Homo sapiens: one gene and its partner. The protein of the gene in region 1 interacts with the protein of each later gene in a pairwise test. Each region holds a gene or a part of one and is shown on either strand. Other genes may lie near its edges.

Evidence for each region.
Region 2: the proteins of ARHGEF40 (region 1) and STC2 interact in a two-hybrid assay, tested with the Homo sapiens proteins (one large-scale study listed by BioGRID and IntAct).

Annotation. Positions count from the first base shown.
Region 1 is NC_000014.9:21,076,721-21,080,538, forward strand, and holds part of ARHGEF40 (rho guanine nucleotide exchange factor 40), read left to right. Parts: intron 1-53; coding exon 54-170; intron 171-1,456; coding exon 1,457-1,552; intron 1,553-1,652; coding exon 1,653-1,768; intron 1,769-2,163; coding exon 2,164-2,290; intron 2,291-3,818. UniProt on the Homo sapiens protein: May act as a guanine nucleotide exchange factor (GEF).
Region 2 is NC_000005.10:173,321,915-173,325,732, reverse strand, and holds part of STC2 (stanniocalcin-2 precursor), read left to right. Parts: intron 1-2,302; coding exon 2,303-2,514; intron 2,515-3,818. UniProt on the Homo sapiens protein: Has an anti-hypocalcemic action on calcium and phosphate homeostasis.

The DNA of each region.
Region 1 (3,818 bases):
GTTTCTGAGTCCTTGGGTGCCCAGGAAGAAACCCCCTGCCTTACCCTCTACAGGGTGCTGAGGTGCTGTCAGAGAATGATCTGAAAAGAGTGGCCAAGCCAGAGGAGCTGCAGTGGGAGTTAGGAGGTCACAGGGACCCCTCTCCCAGTCACTGGGTAGAGATACACCAGGTAAGCTTCCCCTCTACCACCTAGCATGCTGGGAGCCAGGAATAACCCAGCTGAAGACATTCTAGGAGAGAGGCCATGTCCAGGACATACCATGAGGTTGCAAAAAAGTGGTTTCCATTCCATTCAATTCAACAAGTATTTATGGCTCCCAAATCATGAGGAAAACATGTGCACTGTGCCATGTTCTACTGGGGAGATAGGAGGAGTATGATAAATTATTATAATTATTATTTTTAGACAGTCTCACTCTGTCACCCAGGCTGGAGTGCAATGCTTCGATCACAGCTTACTGCAGCCTCGACCCTCTGGACTCAGGCGATCCTCCCATGTCAACCTCTTGAGTAGCTGTGGCTACAGGCATGTGCCACCACACCCACCTAGTTTTTGTATTTTTTTTTTTTTTTTTTTTGTAGAGACGGGGTTTTGCCATGTTGCCCAGGCTGGTCTCAAACTCCTGGACTCCAGTGATCCACCCGTCTCAGCCTCCCGAAGTGCTAAGATTACAGGCATGAGTGACTATGCCCAGCCAAATAAATTCTTAATATGACATTAAGTAGTGTATGATTTTTGGTGGGAGATAAATCATGAAACAAGTAGAGAAGAGTGCAAGATAGTGTCATTGGGTTTCTGGAAAGCACTGAGAGTCAAAAGGCTGGTTCTTGTTCCAAATTACTTTACCTCACTTGCAGAAATAGTGCCCTTTCTGTATCCGCTCCTTGCACCAACATCCAGGCCTCAGGATCCTCATCAGCGCAGTATAACAATCACAATATAATTGCTAAAGGTCCTTCCAGCACTTATCTCATGTAATTCTATGAATATAAGTGTTGTGAGTATTCAAGAAGAGAGAAATAAACATGATCTGAGCTGAGTATGAAAGAGGGGTCTGTAGATGGTCTCTAAGCTTCGCCTTTAGTGTCAAAGGGGAAATTGACATGAATAGGCAGAGAGAGGGGGTGTGACAGGGGGAAGCCCCACTGAAGACAGACAGGAAGGTCACAGTTACCAAGCTGTACAATGTGCCAGGCCCACGTTAGTTGCTAAACTGGCATCATCTCCTTAAAAATCACAGAAGCCTTTCTTATCCTGACTTTACAGTTGAGGAACTGAAGTTCAGGAAGGTTTCTGAACCTGCCCAACCTCATACAATTAGTTAGCAACAAAGTCAGGAACTGAATTCAGCATTGCCTCCATAAAAGTCTCTGGGGCTACCGCACCCCAACCCTAGGGCTTAAGTTCCTTCTTAAACTCTGATCCTCAACTCCATCCCTGCATGTGGGTTTCAGGAAGTGGTAAGGCTATGTCGCCTGTGCCAAGGTGTGCTGGGCTCGGTACGGCAGGCCATTGAGGAGCTGGAGGGAGCAGCAGAGCCAGAGGAAGAGGTATGAAATGAGATGGGACAGTGGGGGGATGGGATTGGGATGGGGCTGGGGTGGAGACTCTCTGGTGGAACCCCAACTGGCAACTCCTCCCTATCCCCAGGAGGCAGTGGGAATGCCCAAGCCACTGCAGAAGGTGCTGGCAGATCCCCGGCTGACGGCACTGCAGAGGGATGGGGGGGCCATCCTGATGAGGCTGCGCTCCACTCCCAGCAGCAAGTACGAAGTATGGGTGTGCGGAGGCAGGTGGAAGTGGGAGGTGGAGACACAGCTGAAGGCTGCCAACAAACCTTAGCTGCCAGACCATTCTTACTGTGCATGTATCTGGGCAAGATACTATGCTTTTACACTTACTGTCTCATAACCCTCACAACATCCTTATGTGCCATTTACTATTACAAATGAGGATTTGGAGGATCAGAAATGTTAACTGTCTTGGCCAACATCGGTCAGTAAAGAGTCAGGATTCAAACCAAAGCAGTCAGGGTTCAGCCCATGCTTTTGATCCATGCTGCTATGCAACCTCTCATGTTTGCATCCCTCAGAGGCACGGAAGGACAGAATTGAGGGGCTCAACAAGGGAAATGATTCATTCTTCTCTGCTCCTTCCCAAGGCTGGAGGGCCAAGGCCCAGCTACACTGTATCAGGAAGTGGACGAGGCCATTCACCAGCTTGTGCGCCTCTCCAACCTGCACGTGCAGCAGCAAGAGCAGCGGCAGTGCCTGCGGCGACTCCAGCAGGTGAGCCAGGATCCCCACGTCCCTCTTACTCAGCCTGGGAGTGTGGCCTCCAGCACCTTTCCCGTTGGTACTTATAGTTGATGGTGTTCTTCTAGCCTGGCTTGGTTGAACGCCCCTCCCTCCTCCTCACATTTGTTGGTCAGTGTGAGATTGAACAAGAGGGTGGGAGCATCATAGCACCAGTAAAGAAAAGCCAGATCTTCCCCTCCCCACTGTTTACACTTGATCGAAAATGCTGAGAGATTGTGAGAGATGCTCAGCTGCCCTAGGGGATTCTGAAGAGCTGATCAACTCTGGAGTGCCTACCACCTTAGCTGAAAAATAATAAAAGTCTATTGATACCAGCTCATTAGTTATACTGCCACACACACACCCTTAACTCCTTATGCGATGTCATCCCTCAGACCTGAGGCCGGAAAGGTCCCACCTCCCTCTCCCTTGGAAGGAGAGAGCATTGAAAGCACCTAAGAGGAACTACAGGCTTCTTTGTGGGGAAGATTCAGGAATAAGGCTGGCTTCTCTGAACCTTGATTCTTCTCTCCTGGGGTTAAGAGCCCCATAGGGATTTGCTCTCCACCCTACCATGTGGGGTAGAGGGGGCTTTGAAATCTGATTGTTCCTCCTTAGCCCCGAGCATGGTGAATGGACACTTCATGGACCTGTACGTGGGCATCAGGGGAAAGGTCACCTCAGGGCCGGTGCAAAAGCGGGGGCCAAGACTTTCTGTTTCCTAGGATTTCTTCATATTGGCTTCCTCTAAGCCAATATCCTAGAGATGGGTTGCATCTCCTCCTGTTTGCTTACCTGCTTGTTAGCTGTTTCCCCAACTGTTTAAAAACAAGATTTGGAGTCTAACGTGCTCAGCTTGAGTTCTAGTTCTGCCATGTGTAAGATGTTGGACAAGTCATGAAGCTCCTCTGAGTTCCCAAGTCCTCATCTATAGAATGCGGATGGTAACAATTAACTCACAACGTGGTCAGAAAGATCAAGTGAATTCAGCAAAGGACTATAAAAGTGGTTATTGTTGGCACTGGCTATTAGGAACAGTCTCAGACTTCTCATCCTCAGGCTGTCCCACCCCCAGCTTCCAGCCTTTCTTCAGAGGAAAATATTACCATCCCGTTCTGGTCAAACATCTCAGAACCAGCATGAGAGTTCATATAGCCTCATATTAGGAAATTAAAGCCGGACACACACACACACACACACACACACACACACACACACACACACACACACCCCTTCTGTACTGTTTCTCCAGGCTTGGTCCCTGGGACCGTTTCTCACCAGTTGCCAAGGCTTGGTGAAGGCCGTCAGTCATCCCTATGACCCTCATCCTGCTTTTGGTTCACCCCAGTTTGATGTACTTCACCCTCGGACATAGCCCTGGAACTTTGACCCACTCCCTCAGTGCTTCCCATCAGCCCAGCTTCCCTCTCATCTGCCTTACCAAAGATTTCTTACTCGGTTTCTCATCTGACCCTTGTGGAAACTATTACCATTCACTGTTGTCATTCCCACATTGCAG
Region 2 (3,818 bases), on another chromosome or scaffold:
GTATAAAACATTATGCCAGTGTCTCCCTTCTGCACTCATAAGCTGTGTCTACACAGGCAGGGTGGACTGGAGACCAATGTCATAATAAACGATAAACACCTTGTAAGGGGACACGCTGTGTCTGGCCACCCAGAACTCAGTCTCCAAAGCCCACTGCATGAGAGGCAGGGGCAGGAACCCCCAATTATACATTTCAGAAGTCATTTCACCTACTAGGAAAATGAGACACAAAGTATGTAGAAATCCGTCATGTGGTGTGTGGGCAGCCAACCCGAATAACTCAGGACCTCCAAAAGAGCAGACTTCTATTCCTCCTGAGTAGCAGATCTTTCTCTCCCAAGCTGACCGGTCGAAACCCTGATTGAGTCCTTCAGTTCCACACTTTCCTTTTGCTCTATATGATAAATATAGTCAGGGCCTGACCCACTTCGGTTATCCCAGGGTCCCAAGGGGAACGCGGAGTTGCTGCTCAGGGCAAGGCAGGAACACAACAAGCAACATATGGCTCCAGTGCCAACAACGCAAATACATTTTTAGATGGCATGTGGCATCAGACTCACCTTCTTCGTGTTCTCCCTGGCCACTTATATGCCCTGTTGAAACGCCCTGTTACTATATCTCAGAAACGTCTCTCCTGCTTCATTGGAGAGCAATGCCAACATTTGGAGGTGGCCATCAGCTTAGGTGAGATTTATGGATGTCACCAGTCCCCATCCACTGACATATAGTAGTGAGCCTGACAAAGCAGTGCCTGGGAACAAGGAGGGGAGGCGAAGACGGGGCTGGCAGCCTAAACTGCAGAGGATGTGCGGTGTGGCCAGAGGGGAAACTGAAACCAGGGAAGGAAAGAGGTAGAACTTTGAACTCCTTGAGGCTCCCTAATAAAGCATCACTCTGGATTAACGGGAATTAGGAAACGTAATAGGAAATCCGGAGGAAAGACGTGTATTTAAGGGCAATCCCACAGGATGTCAGGGAAGAATACCAAGAACAGATTGCCACAGCCCTCGCATAAATTCATCTTCCTCTTTTTTTTCCCAACCAACAGGAATACGTTCTCAAGTTAGAGACATCCCTTTCAAGTTGATGCTCAGCACATAACTGCTTAATAAACGGGCACACCCTGCCCTCCATTCTGTTTGGCTCTGGCTGGAGAGTCAAAAGAGAGGGGGCCACGGGGAGGCCATGCGGGCCACATGGTTTTTCAGAGATCAGACGCTATCTGTAGACATTTCTATGGCTGCTAAAGACAAAACCAAAATAAATGTGCTGGCTGGCTTCCCACTTCCAACCTAAACCCATTTACTTTCTCAACTCAGTGACTTCCGGGCCTGTCTAAAAACAGAGGGGTGACCTCTCCGACGACAGCTAGTTTCTATAGTAATGTGGGGTGCGGGGATTCCCGGGTAGGCATCCCACAATGCCTCCGGGCTGCGCGAGGTTGATAAGGGAGCAGCACCGAGCTCGCCTCCACACCCCCAACAGCTGTCTCCTTTCTAGGATAAGCACAATCAGACGGGGTTGCCAGGAAAGAGAACTGCAGGCCAGATGTATGCCTGGCTGCCTTCGCCACTCGGAGGCAGGGAGCGTGGGGGAGGGGCCGCCAGTGCGGCAGTTCAGACTCCAGATGCTGCCAGGCAGGGTGCCAGGCCAGCCTTTTAGAGGCAATAATCCGAACAGTTTAAAGGAGTAGAGTCATTTTCAAAAAGGAAAAGAGCGCTCTTCCTGGTAGGGTAGGAGGAGACAAGGGTATGGATTTGGGGCGTGGGAGGCACGGAGGCAGAAAGGGAGGTACAATCAGCAATCAATCTCGGTGTCGCCCCTGGAATCAAGGGAAAAAGGAAACGTGTGAGATTTGGACATGCAGGCACCTTCCACTTAGGGAAGACTGCTTGTGAGAACCGTGAGGGATTTATGGATTTGTGTCTGGCCAAATTCCCTTTGTGTTCCAGAAAAGTTGCCACCACACAACCAACACAGGGCTACCTGAGGGACACATAGCCACGGAAGCCCCCGTTGGAGGGAAACTCACAGAGTAGCCAGGGAGGAAGGAGGGAGATGTGTTCGTCTACAGAATGAACATCCCTTGTTGCCCAGTGCTGGGGGTGTCATGTCACTCTGGACGTGCCTCCGGATGTCGCATTGCCTGTCACCTGGGAGGACGTCCGTCTCTGGTGGGGCCTTGGGGTTCTGATGTCAGAAATATCCTGTGTAAGCCCAAGAAGGGCTGAAATGTCCAAGCATGTAACGAGGTCTTCTGCTTTCTGCCCCTCTCTCCCTTCCCCGGCCTGTGTGTTCTCAGGGCAAGTCATTCATCAAAGACGCCTTGAAATGTAAGGCCCACGCTCTGCGGCACAGGTTCGGCTGCATAAGCCGGAAGTGCCCGGCCATCAGGGAAATGGTGTCCCAGTTGCAGCGGGAATGCTACCTCAAGCACGACCTGTGCGCGGCTGCCCAGGAGAACACCCGGGTGATAGTGGAGATGATCCATTTCAAGGACTTGCTGCTGCACGAGTGAGTACTGCCCCGCAGAGGGCCTGGGTGAAGGGGCCACCCAGCAAGGATGGCAATGTGTATGGGAGGAGAGCCGCGTTGCTTCTAGAGGCTGAATGCCTGTCAAATGGAGAAGGCTTCCATTTACTTCAGAAAGCTACACTGACTCTACTAAAAGGCCCCTTTCCTGCTGGCTTTTAGGAAAAGAGAGAATTCCCTCATCAGTCTCAAAATCACAAGCAACAGAAATGGGAAATCGTTTTACTAAGAATGAAATGTGTCGATTCAGTAATACTCTTCATCTTCCCCTTAGCCAAGAACCCACTAGCTCTCAGAATATTCTGAGTAGCTGTAGAGGTGTCCTTACAGACAGCAAATTGCTAATAACATTTGTTGAATATTTACTAAGCGCCAGGCACTGGGCTAAGGGCTCCTTGTGAATTTTTCACTTGATCCTCACCACAGCCCTCGTCACCTCCATTTGACAGATGAGAAAACTGAGACTCACTAAGGCAGAGCTCACACAGCTAGTGACAGGCAAAGCCAGACTTGGGACCTGGCTCCAGTCTGCTGAGCAGTCTGCCTCCAGAACCTATACTCTTAAATCCCGAAAACAGAGCTATAGATGCTTTTCCTGCCTCCTTAACTTTCCTTTCCCTTAGAAGGTTCGGTTTACCTTCTCTCATACATTAGTGCCCTCTCAGAGGAAATGCAAAACAAGTGCCAAAAACTTTAATCAGCTAAACACTTCTATGCCAAAACAAGGAAATGTGAACTTACTTATTTCAAGACTTGAAATTCAATGATAAATTCAGGATGCATCATTTCTTACAAAATATTTCAGCCACAGGATCCTAAATTTTGCAGCATGGTAAAGCATGTTGGTACACAATTGTTCCTAACATGAGGCAGGGCCAGGAGCCCCTGAAGATTTTTTTTTTAAATATTGACAATGGCTCTTTCCTAAGAGACACAGGGCAGAAAGAAAGCCACTAGCCAACCAGTTCAGTACAAGTCATTACCAGTTTGATGGCACTGTTGGTCTCTCCACGGTGACTCATTGAGCCAAATCGGTATAATTTTATGAACTCTTGATCCTCAGTTTGTGCCACAACCTTCTTCCAGTTATGTCCCTACCACACCAACACCACTTAGATGACAGAGAACAGCAAGCACCTCCTGTCTCTTTCCACTTGGTTATAAGGTCATAGGCATCTTGCAACACCCTTGCTACAGTGTTAGAATCATACAATTCATGGCGAAACTCTGCAGGAAGCTCTTGCCAAAAGCAAAACAATATTGCATTTTCCTCGAATTAGGCTAAC